Regions from separate parts of the Homo sapiens genome. Here region 2 is linked to region 1. The links come from fine-mapping of genetic effects on gene expression. Tissue or cell type: spinal cord. Region 1 holds a variant in brackets; the other region holds the start of a gene. All regions are shown on one strand. Distances are from middle to middle.

What was found. PIP is the estimated chance that this variant, and not a neighbour inherited with it, causes the effect.
Region 2: GNA14 starts here. The variant in region 1 is fine-mapped to the expression of GNA14 in spinal cord (GTEx, PIP above 0.99). The same link has a PIP of 0.9 or more in substantia nigra.

Annotation. Positions count from the first base shown.
Region 1 is chr9:77,529,517-77,537,717 of GRCh38, forward strand. The region is part of intron 1 of GNA14 (G protein subunit alpha 14); the gene reads right to left. Among named protein-coding and RNA genes, the nearest start is that of GNA14-AS1, 86 kb to the left of the region's middle. RefSeq lists an enhancer at 4,738-5,250. The variant C/G (reference allele first, on the strand shown) is at 5,075.
Region 2 is chr9:77,645,133-77,653,308 of GRCh38, forward strand. It overlaps GNA14 (G protein subunit alpha 14), which reads right to left and starts at 3,190. Exons shown (of 7, transcript NM_004297.4): 1 at 2,538-3,190. The coding sequence starts at 2,661.

The DNA of each region.
Region 1 (8,201 bases):
AAAGACCTAAGCATTTGAAAGCTTTGTCACTGCGAAGATGGCAGTGGCAGTGATAGGGCTGCGTCAGGGTGCAGGGAGGGTTTGAGCCATAGGAACACTTGGAGGAGAGAAAAAGGCTCATGAATCAGTCAACTCCTTCCTTTCAGATACACAAATATTCTTCATCCCTGCACAAGAAAGCACCATTTCCCAGAGGTGCCAAATGTCTATGTGCTTGCTTCTTTTCATGTCTCAACACGCAGTTCAGGAGGTCCTCAAAACTCACAACACTTGCACATGGCGGCCAAGGAACGTGTTACAGTATGAAGCCATCCCTATTGTTCTTAAATGTGCATTAGAGGTCCAGATACAACATATGTGAAAAATGACATCAAAACTCTACATTCATATTAGATTGAGAGTTTATTTGAAAAGGTAGTAAAAGTTGCAGTATAAGTGATAGCAATTTAGACAACAATTAAAATATTTGCTAATATTTTCTTTGATAAAGATAATTTATCATATGGCACCCCTTTACCATGTTTGGAACATGATGTGTCCTATTCATGGCTCCTCACAACCACACACACTTGATGAAATATATGCTATTGCTGATACAGGTCAGACCTGTGTCCCTACCCAAATCTCACATTGAATTGTAATCCCCAGTGTTGGAGGTGGGGCCTGGTGGGAGATGACTCGATCATGGGGGTGGTTTCTCATGAATGGTTTAGCACCCTCACCTTGGTGCTGTTCTCATGAGAGTTCTTGCAAGATCTGGTTGTTTAAAAGTGTATGGCACCCCTCCCTCCTCACTCTCTCTTGCTCCTGCTCTGGCCACATGAAGTTCCTGCTCCCCCTTTACCTTCCACCATGATTGTAAGTTTCCTGAGGCCTCCCCAGAAGCCGAGCAGATGTCAGCATCATGCTTCCTGTACAGCTTGTGGAAACGTGAGCCAATTCAACCTCTTTTCTTTATAAATTACCCAGTCTCAGGGATTTCTTCATAGCAATGTGAAAACAGACGAATACAATTATCATCTTCATTTTACAGATAAGAAACCTAAGATTCTAATTGGTTAAATAATCTCTGCAAGCTCCCAGTCGGCAAGAGAAAGAACTGGGATTTACTCAGAATTGAACTACAATGACCAACTCAATTATTAGAGAAAAATGTCTTGGTCTGATCTAAAGGGGACAAACACAAAGTTCACAGTCACACACTGAACCTCAAACCTCAGCCAACCCACTGTCTTGCAGGCTCAGGCTGCTGGGGCACATGGGAGAACCCCCAGATGGGGGAGTGTCCTCACACACAGTCTCACTGGCCTTGTTTCAGCCTCCAGAGACAGGATAGGTAGACACTGTCCTCCCATCTCAGAGACCAGAAAACTGGTAATTAGTCAGGGGACAAGCCAAGGTTGGGTGCAGATGCAGAATTGGGGCTGGAAGTCAGGTGTCAATGCCTTGGCCTTCAATGTTCACCACAGACATCACATATCCTAGAAAGGATTTCCTTCCCCTGCATGCCACCAACAGTTAGCCCTGCCTGCTTTAGGCCCTCAAAGTGCCTTGGATACCCAGAAGCAGCACATCGCCTAAATGCTTGCTTGCAAATATATCTCTCACCATACCTTTCATCCAGTAAAGGCAGGGCCCGAGATTCACACATTTGGGCACCACGAACAATGTGCCTGCTTTATAGAAAGCACCCAAAGAAATGGTCAATGAAGGATTGAATGGAACAAACATGAGAAGTCAGCAGCTTTCCCCCATAGGTCTTATATCATGGACAACCTCAGAAAAACGAGACATGAATTGAACAAGGATAAACTGTGATGAGACCACGTGCCCCTGGGAGCCACCATTTCATAATGACTCTTGGCTGCACAAACCCTATATGAGAAGTGAGGACCTGTAGAAAGACCTTATACTGTCCAAGCTTGATTCAAAGTCCCAAGTCAGATTAGCTCTCTACTCCTGCAGCATCTTGGAGTCCCTGCATGTGACTATGATACTGCCACGTCGGTCTCTTATTCCACCCGGCAGAGTTGAGCTACAATCCAGTGCTAGATTACCCCAAGCGAACATTAATATGGCTACATTTACACATTGTGAAGCTGATGTGAATGCAGAGATTATGTAATCACCTCAAGACAGGCTGTGGTTTTGGTCCTGAAGCCAGAAAAATCACTCAAGACACACCCAAAAATCTACACTAAGAGAATCTTTTTGCTAATAAGAGCCATTCACTTACAATGTTATTAATAGTTAAAGCTAACCCCACCACCAGCCCCAAACACACAAACATTTTTTAAAAGCCACCCATTTTTTATTTCAGACATGGAGTATTTCAAAAAGAAAACGTTAGAAGTGATTTTAAGGGTTCATACAAGAGAAGATATAGATGTATTCAATAAATACCCATATTTTAAAATATTCTTTAGTTTTAAATTGTGGTTGTTCAAAGAATTAAAAAACCAAATGCGGAGCAAAAGAGGGCAGAGTAAAGGCAAAGAAGAGAGACTGAAAGACACACAGCACCGAGGGCTGAGAGAGCAAAGAGACTCACCTTGCGGAGATCCTCCACTCTCATTTAAGCCTCAGCATCACCCAGCTAGTGTATTTTTTTTTTCCAGAAGGGAAATGGAAAATCAGAAAGATTAAATTGGTTGTCCAAGGTCACTCAGTTTGGAAGTGTCGTGGCCTGGGTCCAAATGCAGGTTTATGTTGGTGTATGCACGTCCCAGGATAGCACCCCTAGTTATGAGCTGGTTTTTACACTGCTTATTTCCCCCAAGTACATGGTCTCATCCATCGCTCCCATCAGCTTACGTGCAGTCTTCACCTGGTACAGAGATTTCAATCCCTGGAACTTTAGCTTTCAGCCTGCAGAGATCTGCTATAAATAAGATGGTCCCAGCAGCAGGTGAATGCAGGGGAAGGTAGATGATGGCATCAATCTGTCTTATAATGACAGCAGTGACCAGGACCACAGGGACCAGTTTAACTCAAGCTAAGGATCTCAGTTGAGTTTCCTCACTTGTTCTAAACAGAAACTCAACACTCAGACATCAAGTATATGACTGTTCATTTATTCACAAAAAGCAAAAGAAAAATCCAAAGGGTATGATTTTTAGAGTGAAAATTATTGGTGACTGGAGGACTCGGTGACTTAGATCCTACATCCTACCTAACTACCTATTAGAATATGTGGTTTGTTTCAGTAGCATGCGTCCGCTCTGCCTTGTTTTTTTATCTCTTTGTGAGGAATTTCTCACCCGCACCCCCACAAAATGCATGTGCTGGTGGAGGGTCCTCTGCAGCCTGAACGGCTACACACAGTGAAGACAACAGGAACCCTCACCCTGGCAGCAGCTTTTTGGTTTACAAGGAGTGGGAGGTCTTTTAACTGAAAGGTGAATTTTGGTGTCTGGTTCCAAAGGGATTCACTTAGATGTAATGAGGCTAGGGGTGGAGGGGTCACAGTCCAGAGGGCTTGCAATCCTGGACCCAATCCAAAAAGTCACAGAGTAAAAGAGAGAATAAAATTACAATTCCGTCTCTAGACTCTGTTTCAAATATAATTAGGGGAAACGGCTCTTCTCCATTTAGTTTTTCTGTTTTCATATTTGAAAATAAAATCCAACAATGGTAATAAGTACTTTTAAACTTTCAGCACCATATATATATATTTTGGAGACAGAGTCTTGCTCTGTTGCTCAGACTGGAGTGCAGTGACATGATCTCAGCTCACTGCATGTAACCTCCGCCTCTGGGTTCAAGCAATTCTCGTGCCTCAGCCTCCCCAGTAGCTGGGATTAGAGGCGTGTGCCACCACACCTGGCTAATTTTTGTATTTTTAGTAGAGACAGGGTTTCGCCATGTTGCCCAGGCTGGTCTCAAACTTCTGAGCTCAGGCCATCCTCCTGCCTCAGCCTCTCAAAATGCAAGGATTACAGGCGTGAGCCACCATGGCTGGCCTGGCGCCTGATATATTTGAGATAGTTGCTCACCATCATCCAACTGCAACTGTCCTTTGTCATAAAATCAGCGGCAAGCTTCTGGGGAAGGCACCCTGGCCAGTAATACATTCACTAGAAGACTTAACGTCCCTTTCTCTGCGTGGATCCTCTCTGACCTCTCAGCAGGGGATAAAACTGCTCCTGGTCTAAGACTCCCATAATCTCCCAAATCTCCTGCTATACAGCTTTGCCTTGGATCCTCTGCCTCCCCTCTCCCCCTAAACTTGAGATATTTCCTTTTCCAGGGCGGACACTCAATTACTGGTTAACTTGAACATAGAGACCTTGCTAGTTGGCACATACAGATAATTTCTTTTCTATAAAGCTCACCTCCACAAGCTTCCTGTTTACTGTGAGTGACAGCTGTGAGCCTTTGACCTTGCAGGTTGGGAGTTTTCCTACAAGACGCTTGCTCCTGGCCTTCCACTCAACTAGCATTTCCCAAACCTCAATTATCTGTGTACCAACCTTGTGATTTTTCTCATACGCATATGTCACCTGTGTGATTATTTAATATTTAGCTTTATTATTTCAATAAACTTGTAATGAAAAAACCTGTCACAAGTGAAAGACCAGTATTATTTGCCACGATCAAACTAAATATAACAAATGACTTCAGCAATATTTCAAATAAAAACATCCTGTCTATCACCAGTGATCTGGGAACCACATTTTGGAAAATAATACACATGAATTATCATTTCTTATGTGAAATTTACCCGTTTACTTTTCATCTTTAAAGGAGATTCCTCCACTCTTCTCTCTCGAGTCTTCCGAAATTCTACCCATGAACCTCATCCCAATACAAAATAACCAAGGATTGAAACTCATATAAGTACAAAAGGCCTTTAGGAGCCAGGAGGAAACAGAGGCCAAAGCAACATAAATCTTTCCCAAGTGATAGTCCAAGGACATCAAAACAGAAAGCCAATTGTTCTAATGTTTACATAAAATTCAGAAAGACTGCCTCCCAGAGAGCCAAAGCAGGCTGATAAAGCTTCCCAGATAGGAAGCACCATCTCCCAATTGTGATGTGTTCTGAAACCATCGTGAGAAGCCACTGTTTGTAG[C/G]TCAGTTTTGCATGAGACAATGTAAATAGAACAAAAGAAGTCAGAACAAGAATGAGCACACAGTTCTGGATGTTGCTCATGCTGTCTAAATCATCTATGTGCCCAACAGGCGGAAGACAGACATGCGCATAACGGATGTGACCAGCAGGTTGGCTCTCTAAGGACAGGGATCTTTTTTTTTCTCGTTTCCTGATATCTTTGGAGCCTAAAAGAGCAGAGTAAGAGCCTAATAAAATATTCATGAATGGGTGTTTATTGGCTGTAGACAGTCAGGATGGCTTCTGTTTTGAAAAGCAACAAGGAGGTGGATTTCCCGCTCAGAGTGGATGAGTCTGTTGTGTATGCAAAGCAACCTCACCAGTGAGCAGGCGCTCTGATGAAGACACTTGAGGCCAGGTGCCAGCACACTGGGAGGCTCAGGTTCCATTTCAGGGCTTTTTAATGGGGGGATAAAGGACTTAAGAAAATTCCTTTTGTAATCTTTAGGAAGGAGCGTTTCTCAGCAGCAAAGAGGCCTGCCCAGAGGACGGTGCCAGGCCCTTGGGGGCACTCTGCTTGGCCCCAGAGAACTCATGGCTGACCTTGGGCAGTAGCTACCCATGCAGCAGGAGTTTCTGCACCTGTGTGTACTGCAACCCTGGGGCTTGTTTAAAATACTGATTTATGGGCTGGGTGCGGTGGCTCACGCCTGTAATCCCAGCACTTTGGGAGGCGGAGGCGGAGGCGGGAGGATCACGAAGTCAGGAGATCAAGACCATCCTGGCTAACACGGTGAAACCCCGTCTCTACTAAAAATACAAAAAATTAGCCGGGTGTGGTGGCGGGCGCCTGTAGTCCCAGCTACTCGTGAGGCTGAGGCAGGAGAATGGCATGAACCCGGGAGGCAGAGGTTGCACTGAGCTGAGCCGAGATCGCGCCATTGCACTCCAGCCTGGGCGACATGCGAGACTCTGTCTAGGAAAACAAAAACAAAAAACAAAAAAGATACTGATTTATGAGAGAATCAGCTAATGCTGAGAGAAATTCCAAATGACTCCCTACCTAAGTGCAGGACAGCATCCAATGAGGGAGACGATGCTCATTAAAAATGCAGATTCTTGGGCCCCTTGTCAGGTCTAATAATTTTGACAGATTTGAAAATATACATTTTTCACCAGTATTCCAGGGGTTTGGATGCACCCGGTCCACAGGCTGGTTGGGAAACACTTCTCTGGGGCCCTTCAAAGGGGAACCTGTGCTAATAGAATATGCCTGGGACTGGAATGCTCAAGCTATTGCATTACATTCAGTTTAGTTGTTTTGTTTTTTTTTTTTTTCCAAGCAAGTTCCAATTTTATTTCTGCATGAATAAAATACCCCTCTGGAGCTCTGTTTTTCAATTTCCGGGGGAAAACATTTTTAAAGTGCCGATAAGATTCACTTCTTCAAGTTACTCCTGCTAGTTTCTGTCCAGCCCCTACATCACCATCACAGCCAGGTCACTCTCCCAGCTTCTGTTCTCGCAAATAGAGGAGGTGCTATTTTTCACCATAAAAGGAGAAGTAGCAATAATTCTAGGCAACAGAGAACTGGAAACAATTGGAGACAGGGTTCATGGCTGCTGTCTCAACAAAAGAGATTAATACAAGGCTTTCAAAATAAAAAAGGAGAGTTGAAAGAAACTAAGTGACGAGGCTCAATACACAGTTTAAGATTAAAAAACAACAGCAGAACAACGGAGCAGAATTCAAAATATGTTGTATTATTTTTGTTAGGTTTTTTTTGTGTGTGTGTGAGAGAGACAAGAGTCTCGCTCTGTCGCGCAGGCTGGAGTGCAGTCACACGATCTTGGTTTACTGCAACCTCCGCTTCCCAGGTTCAAGCAATTCTTCTGCCTCAGCCTCCCAAGCAGCTGGGATTACAAGCATGCGCCACCACACCTGGCTAATTTTTGTATTTTTAGTAGAGACGGGGTTTCACCACGTTGGCCAGGCTGGTCTCGAACTTCTGGTCTCAAGCTATCTGCCCACCTTGACCTCCCAAAGTGCTGGATTACAGGTGTAAGACACCGTGCCCTGCCTTATTAGTCTCTTGATTCGTTAATCTGCAAAACCATCTTTATTGCCTAACCAAGAAGAGCAGCAATTCCAAATATTTCCTGCTACTTTCTATCATCTTTGGGTCTCATTTTGATAAAGAATTTTCAAGTCCTAACTTGATTTGTGAGAGTACCTCTTATATCAGACAAAGTCAATGGGTCATGCTAACAAGTTTTAATCACAGAGAATTTTTGAATAATTATTTTTCTAATTTGAGATATCAAAAATAATATATTTCTCCTATTTGCCATATGTGCATTTTTTTTTACATCTGCATGCATCTTTTTTATGGATACAAAGTATTTTACATATTTATGGGGTACCTATGAATATCTGTTACATGCATAAAATCAAGCCAGGGTATTTGGGGTATCCATCACCTTGAGTATTTATCATGTCTCTGTGTCAGTAACATTTCAAGTCCTCTCTTCTAGCTACTTTGAGTATACAATACACTGTTGCTAATTATGGTCACTCTACTTTGCTATCAAATATTGAGCTTATTTCTTCTATCTAACTGTATGCTTGTACCCACTAATCAACCTCCCTTCATCCTCCCCTCCCAACCACACCCCCTTCCTGGCCTTTGGTATTTATTATTCTATTCTCGGCTCCACAAGACCAAGTGTTTTATCTCCCACCTATGAGTGAGAACATGCAGTACCTGCCTTGTTTTGCCTGGCTTATCCCACTTAACATAATGACCTCCATTTACATCCATGTTGCTGCAAATGACATGATTTCGTTCTTTTTCTATGGCTGAATAGTATCCCACTATGTATATATACCACACTTTCTTTATCCATCTGTCCATCAATGGACACTTAGGTTGATTCCTTATCTTTGCTATTGTGAATAGGGCTGTGATAAACATGCAAGCGCAGGTATTCCTGTGATATACAGATTTCTTTTTTCTTTGGATTAATACCTAGTAGTAGATTGCTGGATTGTATGGTAATCTATTTTGAGTTGTTGGAGAATTCTCCATACTGTTTTCCATAGTGGTTATATTAGTTTACATTCCCACCAACAGTGTATGAGTTCCCTTT
Region 2 (8,176 bases), 120 kb after region 1:
TTTTTTGCAAAAGCATGCTTCATTGTGAAAGAGATGGTGTCTTTGGGGGTCATCCCATACTCCACAAAAGGATTCCAAACTCCCATTTGCAAAGTGAGGTTTTTAACTGAGGCACCTGAGCAGTGGATGCTCTAATCTACCCACTAGAGAGATGGGTGAATTTTTCACTCGAATTGCATGACTTCAGACAAAATGGTGCACATCCTCCCCTAATTCCTGTCACTTCTGAGTCATTGGCTCTTCCTTGAGAAGAAATGGAGCTATGCCCCAGGACTTTACAGATTGAAATAAATCAGAGGTTTTGAAGTCCATCCTTGGAGTTCTGAACGGCTCTGTGTGGTTTAGAAACTATTTTTCACAGGAAAGTTTTCACTAAGGGGATATGCTAGTCACAACTCCGCAAGATGAAAATGGGAGTTTCCAGAGGTCAGACAGTGCCTCAAGGTGGTAGGAGGAGGGTTGGAGCAATGGCCTGGGAAGATAAAGAAGACCCTCGGGTCACCCTGATTAATGTGACTTTCAGAGCAAACAATTTACCTACAAACATTTCTCCCCTAGTTTGTGGGTAAATGCGAGAATTTTACATCAAACAGGCTTATTACCAATACAGTACAGCTCAGCTGACTACACAATTTTTCATACAAAGAGCCAGCATTTGTCAAGCTCCTGGTATATTCTGGACACTGTACTTCATACATTGACACAAATCAAAGCATTGCAAAATGAAATAGGGTTCAGCCTGCCCTTATAAAGAAAAAAGTTACATACGCAACTAAACCCCTCTGGTTTGTGGGGTTCAGGGCAAAAGTACAAAGCCCCGCACCCATAGTTATTTTCTAGTGTTAATCAAGCTAGCAAATTCTCACGTATTCCTCCTCCCTTGACAAAGGTAGCTTTATAACAGCCTAGAAGGCCAGGGACAATTTAGAATTTTCAGACTTTTCAAAGTTATGGGTCAGACACAGAAATAGCAGACCTGGCCAATGAACAGAGCCCCTTCCCTTCCCCACCCAAGCTCCCTCTCTCCTAGGGGGGCCTCTTGGGCACCCACGGGGACTCCCTCCACTCCTACCCAGCCCACATTTCCAAGCACTTTTACGCCCCAGCAAACAGCTGCCCCTTTGTGAGCTCTCCAGGGATCAGGTCTGCCTTCTTTTCTAGGGCTCAGGCCTTAGAAGCTGGTATGGGTCCCTTTGGGCTGGGTATTCATTCCATCCAGGTCTTGGGAGGGAGGGGGCAGCATGGTCTCTGGGTAGCAAGCCCCTTTGGACCTACAGACTTCCAGCTCTGTGGGGAGGGGCACACCCCCCCCCAACCCCCAGAAGGCCAGACTGGGCCCTTTAAACCCAGGGGATAAGGATAAGGGGGTTCTTCCGCCCAGGTCTGAAGGCCATACTGGCTGAGAGCCTTCTCTATATTACACTAACTAGATCAACTTTTTCTTTCCTTGAAGCTTTCTGGGAGGGTGATTCCTATACAAGGAATAAAGATGAATAAATAGATGGTATAAGAGAAGATTCCTGTTCAAAAGGGGTGAAAGAAAAAAAGTTGAAATCTTTGTGGCTATCTAGAAAAAAATTGACAGCTGATATCATGGTCTGAAAGGTAGAAAAGGTAAAATATTCCTCAAACAGCAAATGTGTTGACAGCGTTCTAGAAAGTCTGAGATGGGATCCTTGCCTCATGGCATAACTTGGGCAAACCTTAAACTGTGTTCTTTCTGTGTTTGAAAGTGGATGTCCTACCCAGACCTTTGCAGAGACACCAAAAGAGCTGGATGAAGACCTGCCAGAGGCACCAGGGCAGCCAAGCTGAATCCTAGGACGTGGACACACTGAGTCAAGCTGGGCAAGGGAGGTTTGGGTCCGCTGCAAACACAAAGGCCTGAGGGACCCCCATGGGAGGCAGGCATAGGAGCTCACGGTCAGAGGAGCAGCAACGGCATGGGCTTCACCCCCACAGCTGACCTAGCATCGGCTTTGCCTTTTCTCAATCAGGGCAAGTTGGTCAGTTCTCCAGGCCTCCATGTTTTAATTCTCTAGAATAGCGATATCACCTGCCCGCATCACCAGGTGGTGATGCCCTTAAGAACTTAGCACGATCTGGCACATGGTAAATTCTCAAGATGCTTCATCTAGAACTGAAAGCGTACGGGTCAGAGCTAGCGCTGAACCCAAGATGTGGGTCACCACAGACCCCAAGCTGGGTGTGCTGCGGGCGGAGGAGTGGACGGGGTTTTGAGGAGAGGGGCACACCGGAACACATAAGGTACAGCGGTCAAGAGGTTAAGTGTTACAGGTCCCTATCCTGTTTTGGGGCAGGGGAAGGTGTTGCTTTTGCAAGTCGCCCAGCCAGAGATGGAAAGAACAGGCACCTAAGGCCCCAAGTTGCTGGCATCCGTGAGCTCCGAGGGGGAGAAGGACGAAGCCGCCCTGCACCCCGCTGGGCTCCAGGGCCGCGCGGGTGCCAGTGGAGAGGCCGGGAGGGCTCGGAAGAAAAACGCCCGGCTCACTGGAGTCGGAGACGCAGCCACTCACCCAGCAGCAGCAGCTTAAGCTCACGGCGCGCGTCCTTCTTGTCCCGACGAAGCTGTCGCTCGATCTCCGCGCTGATGCGCTGCGACTCCTTCTCCTCCGCGGACAGGCAGCAGCAGCCGGCCATGGTGCGCTCAGCTCAGTACCCGACGGGGCGACGCGGCCCCGGGCACCCGAATCCTCGGCCCGGCCGCTCACCCGGCCAGCATGCGACGGGCACAGGGGTGTGGAAAGAAAAGACGGGGGCCGACTTGAGCTTTGGAGTAAGACGCCTGGACCTCCGAGGCTCAATCCCCCTTCGAAAGTCGGCTCTGAGGCGGGGTGAATGCCGAGCGCTGGGAACGCTCGAGTGCACCCCGGATCCGGGCTCAGCCCGCCCCACTCTCGCTCTGGGGAGGAGGAGGGCGAGTCGAGAAGTTGGGAGCGTTGCTGGCCCCGGGAAGATGCGCGCGCCCCTTGGCACAGGAGCCGGACAGCAGTCGGGGGCGCAGACGAGTTGGAACGTCGGTGCTCGGGGGAGAGTAGGATCTCCTGGGCCTAGGGGTGTCCCCAGGCGGGAGGTAGGCGCGGAGTGGGTTGGAGGCAAAGGACCTGGCTGGCCTTTGCCTGGAAAGTTCTGAAAACCTCAGCAGTGACCGCAGACTAAGACTGAGTGGAAAGGTTCCCGCTAGCGTTTGTGGCTCTAAGTGGCAGGAGGAGGCGGAGCATCTTGAACCTGCAGCCCTGGCGTCTGCTGGACTTGCCCTTCTGGGCACCCCAAGCCGAAGGCGCCTGGAAGTGAAAGGGGACGAGCAGGGGGCGCGGAGCTGGGGGTGGGAGCTGGCACCTCTAGGAGCAGCTCCCACACTTGCCTCCCTGGCTGGGGCGTCCCGGCCAAGGTTTGCTGTAATCTGCGCGTCTGGCCGCCAGGCACCGGGTTCCGACAGGTGAGTGAGTTTCGCCAACTCACTCGCTCGGAGAAGGCGGCAGCAGGCTGGAAGAGGAGCGGCGCCAAGCGTCTGTTGCGGGACACAAAGCCCCGGACCTGAAGTGGAAGCTTGCCCACCAGCTTCACCACCACGCACACCCGGATTTCCTAGACTGGCTCCTTCCGCTTCCCGGACGCCCCGGCCCAGCTCGGGCTTGGCCAAAGCCCTTGGTCAGCTCGGCAATTTGCCTGTAAAGTGTGGCTGGGCCTGAGCCTGCTGGCTCTGAGCTCGGAGAAGGAGCCGCCGCTGGGTTCAGTTATAAGAGAACTGCAAGAGCCCAGGGTAAATATCCTCTCGGTCTCCGGACGAGGGGGCTGGGGAGAAAGGGAACGGCTGATTGCTTTGCATTTTATGATGGGAAAGACACCTGCTTTGTAGAAAGGGCTGATACGTTCCTAGTAGCACCTGGCAAGTTTCCTGCCCAGCCCTGAAGCCTAACAGCCGCCTTGCGATTGTGTCCGCACTGACACCTTGGCCTGTATCCTGGACCGTCGGGGTCAAGTTTGAGCAGCATTAATAAAAACTTTAAAAGCACCTCTTAGTACTTAAGTGACACGATAAAATGCATATTACAACATCTGACTTTTGTCTGTGTAGATTTTGATGCAGAAAAGGGAAGGTGGGGAGAGGGGATCCTATTGGCCACAGCAATGAACGTTCTTTCCTTCTCAAGTCAGTATAGGCCATATGCTAATGGGGCGTTAGGCAATTAGCTAGCGCTTCCTCTACTAAGAGCAGGCATAAGTGCCTTTCATTTGAGTAGCATATATTTTATAAATTCAAACTGAGGAGCACATTGAGTGGAATGGTACGTGTCATTATATAAAGAAGTTGGTATCGCGATGCTATCTGGCTGCATGTTCTTATTATTTTACAGTTTAAGAAATGTAGAGGAATCAGACATTAAAAATGTGCATACATGCTTTAATGTGTGACTATTTTAGTTTTCTTGCAGGCATAAATTGACAGTAACAGTGACCCCTACAGGAAAACTCCTGGACATTTCAGATTTGATCTTTGGCCATTTAATAGCCTGTTTCTTCTCTCTTAGCTCTTACGGATTCATTTACAATTTGAGAATAAGATCTCTTGGCTTCTCAAAGTCATGGTTGCATCATAATTGTTATCATTTAAAAATTATAAAAAATTTTTAAATGATTAAAACTAGGGCAAATTTGAACTCTTACGTTAACGGGAATTACTGATACTGACCTATTAGGTTTAAAGTTGGCAAGATTTCAAAAACAGTTATGAAACATATTGATTAGGGCAAATCTGTACAACTTTCCTGGGCTAGTCAGCTTGGCAGTATATATCTGAAGCCTTAAACATGTCCGTCCCCTTCGGCCAAACCAGTAATTTCTCCCTTAAGAAATAACTAGAAAGAAGCCTCATGACTGATGCAAAGGTTTTATTGCCAATACAACAACAAAAACTCACAACCTAAATACCTAACAACAGGGAAGAGATCACTTAAATCATGGTTTATCCATACAATGAGATGTTTTGGAGCCATTAAATATGTGGATATGCGAGTAGTAAACATGTGAATAAATTTGGAGAAAATCCTCAAAATATATTGAATGAAAAAGGCAAGATCCAAAAATATAAAGAGTATGATAAGATTTTAGTATAAGAATACGCATACACATTTTTAAGAGACTGAAGGGACACACATCAAAAAGGTAGCTTGCTGTGAGTCATGGCTGTTTGGTTGATTTTCATTGTTCATTAGAAAATTTGGGCTGGGTGCAGTGGCTCACGTCTGTAATCCCAGCACTTTGGGAGGCCGAGGCGGGCAGATCACCTGAGGTTGGGAGTTCGAGACCAGCCAGCCTGACCAACATGGAGAAACCCCATCTCTACTAAAAATACAAAATTAGTTGGGTGTGGTGGCACATGCCTGTAATCCCAGCTACTCGGGAGGCTGAGGCAGGAGAATTGCTTGAATCCGGAAGGCAGAGGTTGTGGTGAGCCAAGATCACACCATTGCACTCCAGCCTGGGCAACAAGAGCCAAACTCCGTCTCAAAAAAAAAAAAAAAGAAAGAAAAAATTTGGGGCAGCTTGCATAAAATTATTTAGGCTCCACTTTCCTTAACTATAAGATGAGAGGGATAAGCCAGAATAAGCTCAAAAGGATCACCCAACTCTAACATGCATTATTTCTTTGATGACATTCACACTTATCCAAAATAAATTTATTTAAAAATAATCAAAAACCTAAAGTTGTTATTGAGCATCAGCCACTGGTAAGAAACAGAAAACTGGGATATCACAAGTCAATCATTTTTATACTTCTATGTTTTATTCATCTCTGTTTTCCTTATCTGTAGAATCTGGAAGGTAAAATGATAATAATTTTAAGATATTAATTCATTGGAAACATCTTTCCAGGAAGGGGTAGTTTTGAGAAGAGTTCTCAATAAAAGAGAATATTTATTTTCCTAAGTTATTTCAAAAAAGCTGCAATTTTATTTTATTCATCTTGAAGACGAGAGCGCAGACTGGACCTGAGTTTCAGATATCCACCAAGTGTGGGGCTACAGGGGTGAGCTAATTGTCTGATATCCCTCTGAATGTCCACTAGGTCCATACCAGCCCCTGTACCAGGCAGTGAGGATTCAGGTAATAAGACAATTCCAGACTTTCGGTAGAGCTATAGTCTAGTAGAAAGAAGTAAAACTGAGACCCTGAAATCTGAACCTACCCCTTCCTGCTTCCTTCCAGAGAACAGTGAGAGCACAGAGTCACCTGAGGGCGCTCCCCAGGCCTACAGATATGCACAGCAGCCTCATCTTCCATCACTCTCCTGGAACTCTAGACAAATGGAATTTTCTGTTCTCCCTACCTCCTGCCTCCATGCCTCGGTGCATGCTGTTCCATCTTCCAGGAATACCATCTCTTACCCTAGGCAAAATTAGGTAATTTCTTTTTCAATTACATCTCTTCTGAGGAAGCAACTCCAGCCCTTGTCAGTTACATCCATCTTTCCCTACTGCTGGAACACTGTCAACATCTCACTCTATTACACCCGTCTGTTTCTTCTAATCTATGAGTTACTCACAGGTAAAGAGTTTTTCTTACTTATCCTGGTATTCCTAAATTAGCAAGTTTCAGTTGACTAACCTTAAATACTGAAACCAAGAAGAATTAGTCTGAGATGCAAGAAAAGAAGGTTCTTGTGGTGGAAGACAGTGAAAACCAATAAGCAAGTACAAAACAAATGAATGTATAACTTAGGAAGAACTTGTATATATGAGCTGCCCTCACCTGCCACTGGCCCCCTTAGAGAGAATGACTGCCCTGTTTCTAATTCAGAATGCCAAGGAAATGTGCAAATAGAGGGCTGGAAAGATGCAGTTCACTTTCACAAGTGTATTGTCTCTGAACTTAACAAGTAACATAGAGTAAAAATAGGACCTTGAGGAAGTTCACAAAGCACTAATACTAATGTACCTTTGCTGCTCTATGTCAGCATTTTTCAAACTGCAGTTGTGACACATTCCTAGGGTGTGGCCAATATTTTTTCTTAAGAATAAAATATAAAGAGCCAATATCAAGGTTGCTGTATGTATTATTATTTAATAAAATGTTTTTTAACTTTTTTTTTTTTAAGAGCCAGAGTGTCTGTCACTCAAGCTGGAGTGCAATGGCGTGATTATGGCTCACTGCAGCCTTGAACTCCTAGGCTCAAGCAGTTCTCCCACCTCAGCCTCCCAAATAGCTAGGACTACAAGCCCATGCCACCATGTCCAGCTATTTTTTTATTCTTATATTTTGTAAACGCAGGGTCTCACTATATTACCCGGGCTGGTCTTGAACTCCTGGCCTCATAGAGTCCCCCTGCCTCAGCCTCCTGAAGTACTGGGATTACAGGCATAAGCCACCACATCTTTAGTTTTATTTTATTTTTAAGCCAAATACCCAGAGTTCAGTGAGAAAAACTTTAGTTTTAATTGTACGTGTATCAACTCTTAAGCAGCTCAGTCATCAGTGGGAGTCTGCTTGTCCATCTCCTGAATGTGTTAGTGTAAATGATTCCAAATTTTCTAATTCATTTTTCTGAATCCAATATGTTCTTTTTTTTTCAGTTTGAGTTCAATGTGTTCTCTAAAATGTTTTCAATCCTTCTTCCCCGTCACTTCTACTCCCCATCCCACCCATTGGCTCTAGTTTGGTAGGTGAGAGTTGATGGAGCAATGATGGATAATGATTGATTGATTGATTGTTTTTAAAAAAATTTTAGATTCAGTGGGTACATGTGCACGTTAGTTACATGGGTATATTTTGTGATGCTGAGGTTTGGCCTTTAATTGAACCTGTCACCCCATTAGTGAACACAGTAACTAATAGGTAGTTTTTCACCCCTTTCCCCTGCCCCCACTCCCCACTATTGGAGTCCCCAGTATCTATTGTTCCCAACTGATGGATATTTAGATGGATGTGTAATACTGATGCTAGTGGTTGCTTGCACTCAACATCTATTTTTTTTAAGGCAATCAACATGTCAACATGTTGCTCTACAATATTCTCTGTCTGAAGACCAGAAATTGTTTATTATATAACTGTTACCGAAAACGCTGGGATGATAGACAATGAAGTCTGCCTTCAAACACACATGACTGTGAGTAGGCAGGAATTGATATTGTTTGTTTTTGAATGTGACTTTTCA